Linked DNA regions of Homo sapiens: region 1 is linked to region 2. Evidence: fine-mapped expression QTL. Tissue or cell type: whole blood. Region 2 holds a variant in brackets; the other region holds the start of a gene. All regions are shown on one strand. Distances are between the middles of the regions.

Evidence for each region. PIP is the estimated chance that this variant, and not a neighbour inherited with it, causes the effect.
Region 1: it holds the start of PDCD1LG2, and the variant in region 2 is fine-mapped to the expression of PDCD1LG2 in whole blood (TOPMed, PIP above 0.99).

What each region holds. Positions count from the first base shown.
Region 1 is chr9:5,505,943-5,514,287 of GRCh38, reverse strand. It overlaps PDCD1LG2 (programmed cell death 1 ligand 2), which reads right to left and starts at 3,757. Exons shown (of 7, transcript NM_025239.4): 1 at 3,485-3,757. All of the region lies in intron 2 of INCR1 (interferon stimulated noncoding RNA 1), which reads left to right. RefSeq lists enhancers at 3,659-3,708, 3,869-3,928, 3,989-4,068, 4,010-5,209.
Region 2 is chr9:5,461,950-5,470,776 of GRCh38, reverse strand. CD274 (CD274 molecule) reads right to left here. Exons shown (of 7, transcript NM_014143.4): 4 at 7,656-7,943; 5 at 5,171-5,278; 6 at 3,948-4,007; 7 at 223-2,937. The coding sequence ends at 2,915. The region is part of intron 2 of INCR1 (interferon stimulated noncoding RNA 1); the gene reads left to right. Among named protein-coding and RNA genes, the nearest start is that of CD274, 16 kb to the right of the region's middle. The variant T/C (reference allele first, on the strand shown) is at 4,692.

The DNA of each region.
Region 1 (8,345 bases), 44 kb before region 2:
TTATTCAAAACATTTACTTGGTATTTACTATGTGCCAAGCTCTAGTATACAAGGGTAAATAAGACACAGCCAGTGCTTTTATGGAATTCTCTGGTCTGTGCAATAAGTGAGGCATAGACATTCTATGGAAGTATCTCAAGAATCCTAGCAAATCATTCCTTTGTGTAACAATAACCAGCCTAAAGGATCATGTTTGTAAAATACTTCATTCTTTGTTAAATACTGCCAGTCTTATCCCATTTGCCTCTTCCCTCTCCCAGTGTCTAGTAGAGCCCGGCTATCCATGAAGACCTAGATAAATGCATACCCAATTGATCTGAAATACCTGAACTAACCACTGTTTTGAAGCCAAGTGTCTAAGACACTAATTGTAATTAGCAATGTCTGAACATAATCTGAATTTGAATGCCTTTGGGCAAGTTATGCAGAGTTTGCCCCAGGTCCTACCATTTTCCATTGTATTAGACCTAGCTGGATTCACTTATTTTTGTTGCCTGACAAACCCAATAGGTATTTGAGTTTTGGGGGGATCTTACAGCCAGTACTCTGCTGTCATAGGTATATGAGTAATTATTTGATCTCTAAACCATCTGTGGCATAGATAGACTACCAGTAGCCTTAAGATGCTATTCTACTCAATTTAATAGAGCATTTAAGTTCAAATTAAATCTCAATTTTTTAAGCAATAAACAGTGAGTTCCCACTTTTTATAAGCCTTTATATTAGAAAGTTGTGAGAATTCATAGAATAATTTATCATTGGAGAATTCATAGAGGGTTTCCTCTAAGAAAGGGCCCTTGCCCTTAAAGACATTGTACCATAATTGGAAGGTTAAAACTCTCACACATGAAAAATAGTAAAACTGATGTAAAACAAGTGATAAAATTGCAAAAGCCCTAGAAGTTGACTAAAGGAAGGGAGACTTCCCAGAGGGGTAGGATTTGAACTGGGCCTTTGAAGCACTGGTAGGATTTGGGGTTGAAGCTATTCTAAAGGGCAGTGCATAGCTGACTCAGAAGCAGTCTCAGAGGTGCAAATGCACAGGCGTGTTGAGGGGACAATGAACAGAGTAACTTGGCTGGACACTTAGGTTGAGAATGTCAAGAGCTTAATGCCAGGCAGAGCTGCCAATCGGGAAATAGTGGCAGTCACTCAAAAACTAAGTGACAATACCAAAGGAGTATCTGAAAAAGATTACATCTAATTTTTTTTTTGAGTATAGAATTGAGGGTGGGTGGAATTGGTAGACAGCCTCTCAATTAGGGGGTCACTGTATTCATCTAGATGTTTGGTAACAAGGCCCTAACTTCAGGTCAGAAAAAGGAAGCAAGGAAGAGGAAGAAGAAACATATAAGACAATTGACAAAACAATTGACTGCTGATCAGCCATGCACAAGAGACAAAGAGAAAAGCAACAAGATTGACTGTGGTTTTAAGACCAGACTGGCAAGACAATATTGGAGCCATGGGGGAGGAAGGGTGGCAGGGAGAAATAGAAGATGGGGAGCTGATTTTAGAGGGAAGACAGTAAGTTTGGTTTTAGTCTGGGCAAGGCATAAGCATTCCAAAAAATTGTAGGTCCAGAGTTTGGGACAAAATTTAGGGCTAAAGATAAGGAAGTTATTTCTAATATGGAAATGTTAGTTAATATTGAGGAATGAATGAACCATCTGATGGGGAGAATATAAAAGAAAGATTATAAAGAAAAGATCTGAACTCAGGAACGTCCCAAAATTTGGAGAGCAGGAACAGAGGACTAGTGAAAAAGGCAGAGACAAGGTGGTCAGAAGAGCATCAGAAGCTCCCCCAGGGCAGTACTTCTGAGGCAATGGAGGAAAATCCCTCAAAGCAGGGGCAGTTCATCATAGGGAGCCGTGAAGACTAAGAACTGGAAGTCAGCCCACAGGTGTGTTAGAGACAGCTGGAAGGCATCAGAGGTGACTGGGGCTAGATAACCTTTCAGATGCTCTTGTCTGTCCTGGAATTCTGTGAGTTGATTTGAAGGTTATCGAGCCCAGCTACAGTGGAGCAGGGTGTGGCATGAGGAGGTGATACTACAGTTGCCCCTTTACAGAGTAACCCACGTATGCAACAATTAAGACATATGACATATTTGGACATTAGCATGTGGAATTAAAATGACACACAACAATCTACTGGTTGCTGTCCAATGTATTGTAAAGCAAATAAACTCTGAAGCATGACCCATAATACTGTCTCTACCATCTCCTTTTTCAAATCAACCTCAAACTTCCCCCTGTCCATTACACGAACATTTCATTTCTGGTGATTCTCCTGACATTTCATCAAATAAATCCATTCAACAATTCGGCAAGCACCCACTAAGCACCTATGTGTATTGCCAGGTACTGCACTAGGAACTTGGGACTCAGAGAACCTTAAAGGTGTGCTTCTTGCCTGTGAGGAGCTCCAGTTCAATGGAAAAGCTCACCAACAGGAGAAATCTGGGGAGAAGACACCCTGAAGCAGCAGACAACAAAGAGCCTGATGATGGGGAGACCTCAAATAATGAAGGCAAATAGATCAGGTTCCAGTGGCAAGAGCAGCAGGACCAGGATTGTTCATCCACTCACAGAATCTTAGGCTTGGAAAGGAGCTTGGAGGACATCCAGGCCAACTCCGTATTTGACCCTGATACAACTGTCTCATTACTGCTCACACTGAATATTTTTACTCTGCATTTTGTCAATTTAGGTCTCTCATTCCCTGCCCCTCAGAGCCATAGTATTTTTGGGTTAAAAGTCCTGATTAGTTGGTAATCTCACTCAGGCTTAGCCTCTCCACCTCCATCCCCTCCACATGAACCCATTGCCTTTGCTCTTCTACTCAGTGCATCCAGGCGGTGAGCAATCAATAGCAATTATTTCAGTTCTGTTTAATTTTTCTACCTTTTCGCTGATCATTTTATATGGAAAGAATAAGCCTTTCCATAGTCCCCAAATCATGCTTTTGTTCAATAATGATTACCTCTATAAGTTATTAAGATAATAGTTTTGGGTTTTTTGTTTTTGTTCCCCCTCCACCAACAGCTGCCTCTTAGGCATAGCTTGTAAACAAAGGCCAGCCTGGAGGGATCACCGTCTGCTAAATGGATAATCACAAACAGATGTCAGTCATAGGAAAACAGATTTTTAAGTTCTTCACCATTAAGCCTCCGAAAACTCTAAGCTGAGAGACAATCTTAAGAATAGTTATATTATTTTACAGTGCACATATTTGGTGCAGAAAATATCTCACCTTATAAAACTGAGCAACAAGAACAATATGCATAGGAACAAGTGAGAGAAATCTGGGGCAGGAGGACATTAGCTTATTTGTGCCCCTCAGCACAATTTCTGAGGCAGAATGTCTCTTGCCTCAAATGGTGTGGAGAGAAGGTAGGCCACCCTTCCCCCACCCTGGCAGCCTCATCATGGTCCACAACATAATAGTATGAGAGTATCTCAACCCACTCGTTACTCACATGAGGACTTGCCACAGCTCCACAAGTAAAGATGCAAAAGTAAACAACAAAAAACAGTTGCTGTTTGTGTTAGATTTCCTTATAGTAGCCACCAAAATGAACAGCCAAAAGGAAAAACAAAACAATCAACATGCAGTAGCTCCAACCCAGGATTCTTTCTAGCTGGGACATATGAGGATGGGTAACAAAAAAGCACTCAAAATTTGGCGTTAAGATATATTCAAGAGAAGAAAAGTTGTTCATTCAGCTTAAGGTTTGCCGTAACATGAGAGTGAGTCAAACCAGAACTAGTTCTGAGGAACTGACGAAAGCCTGGCTTATTTGGAAAGTTTTGGTTTTGCTTTTAGCAGTTTGTCTGTGAATGGGATTGCATTCCTGATTTGGCTCTTGGCTTAGCTATGGTTGGTGTTTAGGAATACTAGTGATTTTTGTATGTTCATGTGGGATCCTGAAACTTTCTGAAGTTTATCAGCTTAAGGAGCTTTTGGGCTGAGACTGTGGGATTTTCTAGATATAAAATTATGTCATCTGCAAACATGGGTAGTTTGACTTCCTCTCTTCCTTCTTGGATGCCTTTTCTTTCTTTCTCTTGCCTGATTGCTCTGGCCAGGACTTCCAATAGTATGGTGAATAGGAGTGGTGAGAGAAGGCAGCCTTGTCTTGTGCCGGTTTTCAAGGGGCATCCTTCCAGCTTTTGCCTATTCAGTGTGATGTTGGCTGTGGGTTCATCATAGATGGCTCTTATTATTTTGAGGTATGTTCCTTCAATACCTGGTTTGTTGAGAGTCTTTTTTTTAACATACCTTGAGAGTTTTTAATACCCTTTTATTCCCTCTCTTTCCCCTATTCTTATATGTGCTCCAGCTTCCCCATTGTCCCTGGAGCACATTTAGGAATAGGGGAAAGGGATGGAATGAAGAATACCAGCATGTCTTAGTGCTGTGCCAGGAAATTGACTCATTTCCTAGGGCTTCTGTAACACATGACCTCAAGTCCTTGGCATTCCCTGACTTATAGTTGTATCACTCCAATCTCTGCCTCCATCTTCAAATGACATTCTTTTCTGTGTGTATCTCTACATTCCTCTCCTCTTATGAGGATACCATCCGTTTGATTAGTGCCCACCCTAATGCAGTATGACCTCATTTAGACTACATCTGCGTAGACCCTACTTCCAAATATAGTCACATTCTGAGGTCCTCAGTAGACATGAATTTGGGGGGAACATTATTCAACTAACCTCACTTCATTTCATAGTGCCTCATTTCATTCTCAGTGCAATGTGTGGTTTAGAGTTAGACCCATTTTACACATGAGAAAACAGGACCAAGATCAAACAATGTTTCCTTAGTTGCATGGCTGAATTTGAACTCGGACCTCAGTGGCCCCACTATACCTTCAGGCTTGTGATTGGTGAGATTAAAACCACATGGCAAGAAAAGGCAAACTTGAATATAGGCCTGAATGATCAATCCTTCTCCTGCTGCCTCCCGCCCTTTTCCTTGTGCTTATAGGGGTAGGACCAGCAGAGATGTGGGGCTGAACACTCAGACAGAGGATGTTTTTAAGAAAACATCTCTCCTTGCCTGTCCTCTAAGCCTTCCCTGCCTCCTTGTTTCTTCTACAAAAGCAAGGATCTCCTTTCCTCCTCCTTGTCCTGCATCCTCTTTTCGTCCCATCGCTTGAACAAGAAGTACTTTAAGAAGTACTACGAAGCTGTGTAGTACCTACAGATGGGAGTGGCTGCCTAGACGGCAAGAGTTGGGACTGTGTCTGTGGGACCCGTGCTTCCTCTGGGGATCTGCTTCTACACCCACGGCTCCAGGCATGTGGTTTCCTTAGGAGTTGCCATTCTCTTACCTGACCCTCTGTTCCTGGCCACAGTGACTGGCTGAGGAATGGACATATGTCCCCTGTGTGGCTTTGAGTTTTAGTATCTATGGAAAACACACCTCACCTACCAGAGTTCCTGTCCTTCTTTAGGAGTGAGGTGCACTCACCACAGTTTCCTTTCCTCTCTCTTGGGTAGCCTTTCTCCAGGCTTGGCCTGCCTCTCCTCTTCACACTTTCCTTTGGGCAGTTCAGCTCTGCTTTGCCACAGTTTAGGGCATCCTGAAGCAAAGGAAGGCCCAGGTATATTCACAGCAAGGCCAAATGAAACTCAAGCTAGTGTCTCAGCACATTAGCCTGCCTCATAAATCTATATGTCTAGAGAAAATAATGGAGGGTTACAAACCAAAGTGTTAATAAAGGCATTTCTGGGTGGAGGTAACTTTTTTTAGTTTTTTGTTAAACTTTTGTTTTACATAGGTAACTTTTTTAGTTTTTTGTTAAACTTTTATTTTACATAGGTAAACTCGTGTCATGGAGGTTTGTCATACAGATTATTTTGTCCCCTAGATACTAAGCCTAGAACCCAGTCATTTTTTTTTTTTTTTTTTTTTTTTTTTTTTTTTTTTTTGCTCATCTCCCTCCTCCCTGGGGCCTCCACCCTCAGCTAGGCTCCAGTTTGTGTTGTTCCCCTCTTTGTGTCCATGTGTTCTTATCACTTAGCTCCCACTTATATGTGAACACATGTGGTATTTGGTTTTCTGTTCCTGCATTAATTTGCTAAGCATAATGACTTCCAGCTCCATCCATGTTCCCGCAAAGGACATGCTCTTTTTTACGGCTCTATAGTATTCCTTGGTGTATATGTACCACATTTTCTTTATCCAGTCTGTCGTTGATGGGCATTTAGGTTGATTCCATGTCTTTGCTATTGTGAATAGTGCTATGATGAACATGTGTGTGCATGTGTCTTTGTGATAGAATGATTTACATTTCTTTGGGTATATACCCAGTAATGGGATTGCTGGATTGAATGGTAGTTCTGTTTTTAGCTCTTTGAGGAATTGCCACACTGCTTTCCATAATGGTTGAACTAATTTACACTCCACCAATAGTGTATAAGCATTCCCTTTTCTCCATAACCTTGTCAGCATGTTGTTTATTAACTTTTTTTTTTTGAGATGGAGTCTCACTCTGTCTTCCAGGCTGGAGTACAGTGGTGAGATCTCAGCTCACTGCAAGCTCCACCTCCTGGGTTCATGCCATTCTCCTGCCTCAGCCTCCTGAGTAGCTGGGACTACAGGCGCCCGCCACCACGCCCGGCTAATTTTTTTGTATTTTTAGCAGAGACGGGGTTTCACCATGTTAGCCTGGATGGTCTGGATCTCCTGACCTTGTGATCTACCTGCCTCAGCCTTCCAAAGTGCTGGGATTACAGGTGTGAGCCACCGCACCCGGCCAACTTATTAACTTTTTAATAATAGCCATTCTGACTGGTGTGAGAGGATCTCTCATTGTGATTTGGATTTGCATTTCTTTAATGATAAGTAATATTGAGCTTTTTTATATGCTTGTTGGCCATGTGTATGTCTTCTTTTGAAAAACGCCTGTTCATGTCCTTTGCCCACTTTTTAATTGGGTTGTTTGTTTTCTTCTTGTAAATTTGTTTAAGTTCCTTATAGATACTGGATATTAGACCTTTGTCAGATGCATAGTTTGCAAAACTTTTCTCCCATTCTGTAGGTTGTGTGTTTACTTTGTTGATAGTTTCTGTTGCTGTGTAGAAGCTCTTTAGTTTAATTAGATCCCATTTGTCAATTTTTGCTTTTGTTGCAATTGCTTTTGGTGTCTTTGTCATGAAATCTTCACTCACTTCTATGTCCAGAATGGTATTGCCTATATTGTCTTCCAGGGTTTTTTATAGTTTTAGGTTTTACATTTAAGTTGTTAATCCATCTTAAGTTGATTTCTGTATCTGGTGTAAGGAAGGAGTCTAGTTTCCATCTTCTGTATATGGCTAGCCAGTTATCCCAGCCCCATTTATTGAGTAGGAAGTCCTTTCTCCATTGCTTGTTTTTGTCAGCTTTGTCAAAGATCAGATAATTGTAGGTGTGCAGCCTTATTTCTGGGTTCTCTATTCTGTTCCATTGGTCTATGTGTCTGTTTTTGTACCAGAACCATGGTGTTTTGGTTACTGTACCCTTGTAGTATAGTTTGAAGTCTGGTAGGATGATGCCTCTGGCTTTGTTCTTTTTGCTTTGATTGCCTTGGCTATTTGGGCTCTTTGTTGGTTCCATATAAATTTTAAAATATTTTTTTCTAGTTCAGTGAAGAATATCACTGGTAGTTTGGTGGAAACAGCATTGAATCTATAAACCGCTTTGGTCGTTTTAATGATATTGATTCTTCCTATCCATGAGCATGGAATGTTTTCCCATTTGTTTGTGTAATCTCTAATTTCTTCTAGCAGTATTTTGTAATTCTCATTGTAGAGCTCTTTCACCTCCCTGTTTAGCTGTATTCGTAGGTATTTTTTTTTTTTTTGTGGAAATTGCAAGTGCAATTGTGTTCCTGATTTGGCTCTCGGCTTCGCTGTTGCTGGTGTATAGGAATGCTAGTGATTTTTGTACATTTATTTTGTATCCTGAAACTTTGCTGAAGTTGTTTATCAGCTTAAGGAGCATTTGGGCTGAGACTAGGGGTTTTCTAGATATAGAATCATGTCATCTGCAAACAGGGATTGTTTAACTTCCCTTCTTCCTATTTGGATGCCTTTTCTTTCTTTCTCTTGCCTGAGTGCTCTGGCCAGGACTTCCAATACTATGTTGAATAGGAGTGGTGAGAGAGGGCATTTTTGTCTTGTGCTGGTTTTCAAGGGGAATGCTTCCAGCCTTTGCCTATTCAGTATGATGTTGGCTGTGAGTTCGTCATAGTTGGCTCTTATTTTGAGGCATGTTCTTTCAATACCTAGTTTGTTGAGCATTTTTAACATAAAGAAATGTTGAATTTTATAAAAAACCTTTCTACATCT
Region 2 (8,827 bases):
AATGTAGATGACAGGATTTTGACTCTTCTTGGTATGGTCCTAAAGGAAGCTGCCGAATGAGAGAGAATGAAAATTTTCAATACATTCTTTTTTAAAATAAAATCTTTTGATACTTTTTTCATTGTGCAGGATTCAAAAGCATGCTGTATAAAAACATGCTGTATAAGCAATGAAAAAAGAACTAGGAACAAGGCTGCAAATATTCCAAGTAACTTTCTCCACTGGGATGTTAAACTGAACATTTTATTAAACACAAAATAAACAAGAAAATGGACATGCTGGTGTACCAAGTAACAAAATAAATAAGAATATTTTATTAAATTAATGCAGGTACAAAAAGTGACAATCAAATGCAGAATTAGGTATCATCTCTGCCTATGCCATTTACGATGAAACATGAGACAAAAGGGATAAAGTGCCTTACAAATCCAACACCACAAGGAGGAGTTAGGACTTAGGAATAGACTGAGTAGACTATGTGCCTTGCTCAGCCACAATTCTTGCCTGTAATTCACACAAAGAACACTGTCACACCAATTACTGTACAAATGCACATGTACAAACAGATAACACAAGGAGCTCTGTTGGAGACACTGTTTCTTCAGCCTTGACATGTGGCAAAGCCAAGGTACTCCTTGTCATTGACACCAGAATATGGCCAAGAGGGAAAGGAAACTCTGGGATCTCCCAGGGCATCTGAATCTCGAAACCTCCAGGAAGCCTCTTAGGAGGGCTGTGTAGTGATGACAGCTGGTGGCATTCAAGGGTTCAAGCACAACGAATGAGGCTTTTCTGGCACAGGGTAGCTAGCAGTCAAGGTACACTGCCGGAATTTCCAGAAAGAAAATGTGATTTTGCAAGTACAGCATCAAAGTGAAGTTTATACTTGACAGAAAGCAGAAAACAAAAGTTCCAGACATGATTCTGTCATACAGAGTTAATAATAAGATTGCTTTTTAGGACTAGATTGACTCAGTGCACCCTGGAGAGCCCATGGGTCTCCTTTTGAGCAAACATAAACAAATCCAAACTCTGTCCTAGAGCAAATACTTAACAAATGGTGGTTGTCTAAATGTATATGTAGGACATATTTAACATATACTGGATCATATGAAAGATAATGAAAAGCTATGGGAAAGATAACTTAGAAACAAAGAAGGCATGGATCCTCAGCCCTGGGAACTTCAAATTCATTCCATCTGCTATATAAGAAACACTAAAATAAATAAAAATAGCAAAGTACACAGCAGACATACAATGTGTTACTATTTAGGAAAAAAATTTTAAAAATACGTGCTTTTAACATACATTTCCAAATGTAGACTATCTTTAGAAGAACATATGAATGAAAGGCAGTAGCAGTTGCTTCTGGAAAGGAAACTTGAATGGCTTGGAGGATGAAGTGGAGATTTTCCAACCATCTCCCATGGGATCTTTTGAATTTTGAATCATGGAAAGGTATGAATTTAAAATTTAGTGGCATTTAAATAGAAAAGACAGAACTGTTAAACAATACCAGACACTATATAAACAAGCATTAGATTATATGGCAAAGGCAAATCAGGAATAAATATAATGCTAGAAAAGGAATTCCAGTGTTATTTTTCAGGGTTATTTTAAGTACCGACCTCTCTTTGTAAATGAAAATTACTCTGATTATTAAGATGTTTAAGTATATCCAACCGTCCCAGACCACATTGGCCTATTTCCTCCTCTTGGCAACACTGCTCGGGTTTTCCCCTCGCATCATCCTTATGCTATGACACTGGACTAAATTGTAATAATACATTTTCTTGTTAATCTCCTCATTATACTATGAGCTCCTTGAGGACAGGTACTTTGTCTTGCTCACATCTGTAGATTCAATGCCTGGCACAGCGATTGATATTGCAAGGGCACTTAATAAATGGTTTTTGAATAAAAGAATTGCTTAAAGTAAAATATAGCTGTAAATTGTATTATAAAAGGACAGTGGGTGGCAGTCTGAGGTCTGCTATTTACTGGTTTGGGCAAGTTACTTAATCTGTTTGCTTCCTCAGCTGTACGATGGGTAAAATAATAGTGGTTATCACAACAGGGTGGTTACAGCGATGAAATGAGATTATGTGTGTAGGCTACCACATAATTGTAAAGCTGATATTTAAATGGAACAGATACTGCACAGACACTTGAGGTCTGAGAATAAGATTAGGTCAACCAGAGTATTAATGGGTTAAATAAAGGTGACATCCTATGCAACCAACGGTTTGATCTTTATGCTTCCAATGTATACTTGTAGTTATAGAGGAGACCAAGCACCTTACAAATACTCCATGTTTTACTAGATGTGAGCAAATCATTAAGCAGCAAGTTTAGTTTGGCGACAAAATTGTAACATCTACTACAATATATCTTCAAAAGAAATCATTCACAACCACACTCACATGACAAGAAGACCTCACAGACTCAAAATAAATAGGAAAAACTCATACATAAATACTGTCCCGTTCCAACACTGAGACTCTCAGTCATGCAGAAAACAAATTGAGGCATTGAGTGGAGGCAAAGGGCACTTCTGCAGGAACTGACCCTCAAATTAGGGATTCTCAACCCGTCTTCCTAGGATGAGCAATGGATGATTTGCTTGGAGGCTCCTTGTTCAGAAGTATCCTTTCTCCCTGTCACAGGCGTCGATGAGCCCCTCAGGCATTTGAAAGTATCAAGGTCTCCCTCCAGGCTCCCTGTTTGACTCCATCTTTCTTCATTCTCCTCCTCTGCTTTCGCCAGGTTCCATTTTCAGTGCTTGGGCCTTTTAAGTCCCACATTGCCTGCATCCCACGGGCCCATTCCTTCCTCTTGTCACGCTCAGCCCCGATGAACCCCTAAACCACAGGTTGAGAATCCCTGCTTGAAGATCAGAAGTTCCAATGCTGGATTACGTCTCCTCCAAATGTGTATCTGGAGAGTGATAATAGTATATTAATTTCATGGGAAGTGGTCTGGGGAAAAAGTAACAAGAAATCTAATAAAAAACATAACTCATAGTTGCTGATATGATAAATGATAAATTTGAAATGAGAGAAAGCAGCAGGTTATATTTGTACCCAATTATCCTTACATGATATCCTGGAAAACCCCTCAGTCCTGAGCAAATTGGGATGGCTTGTCCCCCAGCATGACCCAAACAACATTTGCTACTTAGCTTTACAACACAGATGATGCTATGGGCCACAGAATGAAACTTGCCTGAGCTTGTCCAGGTTAATTAGACTGCTTTAAACTTGGGCTCATTGTTAAGTTTGGTTTCTAACTACATTAAAAAAATTAGAAACCTTAATATAACTTTCTTCTTAGTTCAATAACCTGGATGAGGTTTTTCTGCCCTGCTTATAAATGTAAACATTTGTAGCAAAATGGATTGAAGCAGATGGGTTAAGAGTAAGGGTCTGTGGTTAGGCTAATGGCCCCCAAGCTTGATTTTTGTGATCAGCTGTGTGTTCTTGGGCACTTTACATTATCTTCTTGACCCTCTGTTTTCTCTACTGTAAAATGAGGATAAATTCTAGTATTTCTCTCTCTCTCTCTCTCTCTCTCTTTGGTAATGGCAAGGGGTGGGGGATTAAATGAGATACCGTGCATGGTGCAATTAACATAGTATTACAATACTGACACACAATATTTTAGAATCAATTAATTATCCATCCACCTAAGTCATCCTTGTCCCCTGCTGCAAGGAGCTGCTAGGGTGCAGGGCAACAGAAGATTAGCAAATGAAGCTGACTCCTTCCCCTTCCCTGCTCCTAAACCTCCTCAGACGGTGGAGGAGTTCTTGTGTTAGCTGTGAGGCAAAGGGGAACCAGCATTCTTTAAAAGGAGAGGAGATTATGACTGATGGATTTCTCTTTGTTATTGCTTTAGCTTTTTGTTTCCTTTGACTTTTACTTCCCAATTCCTTCTGATATTCTTACCACTTTGCTTCTTTGAGTTTGTATCTTGGATGCCACATTTTTTCACATCCATCATTCTCCCTTGAGAAAAAGAAATCATTTTTATTTCCATATAGCACAGCTCTACATCCCATACAGTGACCCAAGTTTAAATTTCAAGTTCTGTGAAACATTTGTAATCCCTAGGAAGTCTGGTGGACATCCTTATTCCACAGGTCCCAACTTATGAGGTTAATTAATTCAATAGTGTAGGGCACATGCTTTTGATCCTAGATGTTCTTGAGGAGTATACACTTTTATTTTTCATCTTTTCCCAGAGATGAACCAAATTCTGAGGTATTTTAATATCTATTGATTTCTATCCATTTCTACTGCCAACTAATCTTTTTTTCCAGAGAAATATTCAAAATGCATGCTGGCAACAATTATTTCTTTGTGCAAATCAACTCCATCTCAGGATCTTACTGTCATTGAAACTTGATCCTTATATTCTGGCTATCTCAGTCCTGTTAAGAATATAATTTTTGGAAACAGCTTATCTCTACTCTCTCAGTTAACACTACTTTCCCCCATGTAAGGGGTTATGGGGAATTTTTCAACGACTATTGGAATCCCCTTCCATATTCTACTTCCCTATTTAACATCAGACAACTCTATACCATCACTGGATCTCTTGGTATACTTCTCTAAGTATTGGAGGAATTATTTACTCTGACTCATCTTAAATGGGAGGAAATTATTTGAATATACTCATTTTCCTGGATT[T/C]TAATTGTTCCCACAGGTAAATGGAGAAATGAACACATGCAAATTATGTAACATCCTCTACCAAAAATTTTGCAAAATACTCTATGGTAAACATACTACAGTTCTACAGAGGAACTATTTTTATTACTTAGGGTACCCAGAAACCAGCTGGTTGCAACTAATGCAAGACTAAAATGCAACTGAAAATGACGGGCATTTTAGCTCTTTCTCTTCTGTAAGTCTGTGGTTATTTTCATGATAGAAAAAAACTGTATGACACTGCATCTTCTACCTCCATCCATACCCATTCTCCTGCCCCTCACCCCTTACGCTTCATCTTCACCCAGTGATCCCACTCAGCTTCAATATAATTGCTGTTGAACAGTGGAATGCCTTTGCACCACCTTGCAGAGGTTAAGTCGGGTTTCCTTGCAGCCATGATCCAATTCTCACCCCTTCCTCACCCCCAGTGGAGACCACTGCAATTAAGGAAATACTACCTTTTCTTAAACGGAAGATGAATGTCAGTGCTACACCAAGGCATAATAAGATGGCTCCCAGAATTACCAAGTGAGTCCTTTCATTTGGAGGATGTGCCAGAGGTAGTTCTGAAAAACAAAACAAAACGAAAACAAACTGACTAAAGATAAAATTTTGATGGGAAGGGGTCAGGAGAATGGTCATCCTTGAAGTTTAGTTTAGCTTTAGGATAATTTTCTTAAATGCCAAAGTTTGAGTGGCTGGAATGGCGAGATACCTGTGTTAAAATGGGAACAGCATGGAGAAGTGTGAGAAGCCCAGGCTTTGAAAAGGTGGTGCTGGGGCTAAATTCTGCTGCCCTTAACCAGTTTTGAGGTCTTGGGCAAGATACTTAACCAGTGTACAAAATACAAATGCTAATACATTTCTTGTGAGGCTAATATTTATAATGTGCTTGCACAGTACCACATGGAGTGGCTGCTCACTATTAAATGGCGGCCTTGATTATTTCACTTCCTCTTGCTTTTTTTTTTTTTTTTTGAGGCAGAGTCTTTCTCTGTTGCCCAGGGTGGAGTGCAGTGGCGCAATCTGGGCTCACTGCAACTTCCGCCTCCCAGGTTCAAGCAATTCTTGTGCCTCAGTCTCCCGAGTAGCTGGGATTACAGGTGCACACCACCACACCCAGCTAATTTTTATATTTTTAGTAAAGGCAGAGTTTCACCATGTTGGCCAGGCTGGTCACAAACTCCTGACCTCAAGTGATCTGCCCACCTTGGCCTCCCAAAGTGCTGAGATTACAGGCATGAGCCTCCGCTCCTGGCCCCTCTTGCATTCTTTAATATAGAAGCTAGTAGCCTACAGTACATGGCAGAGATGGCCCACAGTAGAACATGGAAGGCCAACCAGCACTGCTAAGGAGCTCCCACCTCCTCCTATCTGTCATCATGATTGGAGGCCAATGCTTGTTGTCTTATCTTTCTCTGCAGTTTGAACATCTCTGGACAACAAGCCATTAGTATCTCTTACTAGGCTCCTTGTCTGGGGTACCATGCAGGAGGAAAGGGGGTCCCATGGTACACAGATGTTCAGAGGCTGCTAACTCCCACCTCTCACCCTTAGTCAGCTCCTGCCTGGCTCAGCTCTCCACTGAGACCCATGATCCATCTTTGACTACCCAGGTGAAACTTTAAAGACACAACAACAGCCAGCTTTTTCCGTAACTTACAGTTTACAATGCCTGTTCACGTATGTTTTATTTCAGTTTCAGAACAACTTTATGAGTTAGGCATGCCAGGTATTTAAAAAAAAATCCCCAATTTACAGATGAGGAAACAGACTCAGTGCAGTTAGGTGAGTTACTGTAGGCCACCCAACAAGTAAGTTGTCATAAAACAGCTTGTAAATGGCAGGAACCCACTAATCTAGCTTTTACTGAAAGCCAGTTCAATACCTGAGGACTCGTACCCCAGTAAGAGCATCCCCATCATTTTCTAAAGTTTTTTCCCCCTCTTTCTGTTCACAACACCGTCCTGGATTATCTTTTCCTATTGATTGACTTTTCTATCTAATTTTTCAGTTGTTTTTGCTGAAGTACGTGGCATTTTCCTATCAACATGTATTGGGGGAGGGGGCAGTGAGCAGCTCTTCTCAGAATATCTTTGTGTTTATATTAAATATCATGCTCACTCGCCTCACTTTCTTTCACATTCTGAGCCTCTCATCAGACTCTGTCTCCCACCCTACCTACTTCTGTAGAGTAGTGAGATAAAAAAAAATAGTTGAATTTGTGCAGGCAATGGTCTCAAATCATTTTCATACACTGTTGCTAATCTGACCCTTACAATAAGCTTGCTCAGTAGATTATAATCCTACAGGGAAAGTGAAGCACACAGAAGTCTAGTAATTTGCCCAGGGACACACAGCCTCATGTTCTATGCACTAAGCAGACTGCTAGAGTTGAAATATTGTAGACTACCTTGGGAGAGGCACCGGGGAGAAAGGGTCCCTCATGTTTGGCATAAGATAGAAAAATATGTTCCATTTATTTCCTGCCACCCTGGAAAGAGGGAAGCAGCTCTGATGTGCCAGGATTTGGATTCCTGAAACAAGGCCTGAATTGAGTATTCCTCTCAGGTATTCCCCAGGTTTCCCGGCTATGAAAGCATTTCCCACATGGTGTTGGATTGCCTGTTTTTTGTTTGTTTCTTAGTTTTTTATCTGTTTCCTGAAGAGTGTGAACTGAGTCTTATTATTCTATGTGTATCCAATGAGTACTACAATGCATGGAACAAAAGGTATATTCCATAAATATCTGCTGAATGTTTATTAAGTAACAATATGGTTTGGATGAATGGAGGTGAGGAATTAGGATATATTTTGTAAACATAGTGTTATTCATTCATTCATTTATTCAACAATCACTGAATGACTATGATAGGCAGACATCATGCTAGGTGCTAGGGGACAGTGTTAGACATATTTTAATGGACACATTCAGAATATTACCTGGGATGACCAATTCAGCTGTATGGTTTTCCTCAGGATCTAATCTCCTAAAAGTGCAGTAGAAAATCTCATTAGTTGTTGTGTTGATTCTCAGTGTGCTGGTCACATTGAAAAGCTTCTCCTCTCTCTTGGAATTGGTGGTGGTGGTCTTACCACTCAGGACTTGATGGTCACTGCTTGTCCAGATGACTTCGGCCTTGGGGTAGCCCTCAGCCTGACATGTCAGTTCATGTTCAGAGGTGACTGGATCCACAACCAAAATTCTTTGGTTGATTTTGTTGTATGGGGCTAGGACATAAACAAAAAGAAGTCAGGGCTTTTGCTGAGCACAGAACTACGTACATAGCTTGATGCTGTCCACATTAGAAAGAGTATCAATGCAGGCTGGTTCTCAGAGGGATATGCTTAATGTTCAGATGCCTCAGCCGTGGGGAACACCTGCTAGCTCTGCCTCAATTCAATTCAAAGTTGGGACAAGTTTGGATTAATAGGAATGACTATCTTTCTATAAAAATCATGTTGGTACATTTATTGGGCTCAAACAAAATGTAAAGATTAATTTACACTAAAACCCCAGACTTCACCACTATGTAATATATCCATGTGACAACACTGCTCTTGTACCCCTTAAATTTCTACAAAAAATAATTTAAAGAGAATTATCTTTAAACCAGAAGTCTTTCTATTCAAATACAAAATATCCCTCTCCATTTGTTCAGGTTTTCATATGTTTCTCAGTAAAGTGCTTCTTCTTAAATTTATTCTTGGATATTTTATTTTTGTTGTTATAAATCTGTCTTTATAAACATGAATCTCTCCAGCTGGTATGCTTTCTTTTCTTAGACTTCAGTAAACAGAAAACCTGATTTTGAGGTGTCATTCACTTTTCTGATTTGAAGTCAATGATCAGAAATTAGATATGAAAATACATAGTATTTCATCTGTAAACAGTGATATATGTTCCTGGTGATACTTTTTAATGTTTAAATTTGTTCTTTATTTTAGAAGTTTTAAATTTACAAAAAAGTTGCAAAGATAGTATAGAGTTACTGTATACTCCTTACCCGGTTTCCTCTATTGTTAGTATCTTACATTACCATGGTACAATCGTCATAACTAAGGACGTTAGTACATTATTAATAACTAAACTGCATAATTTATTCCATTCCTCC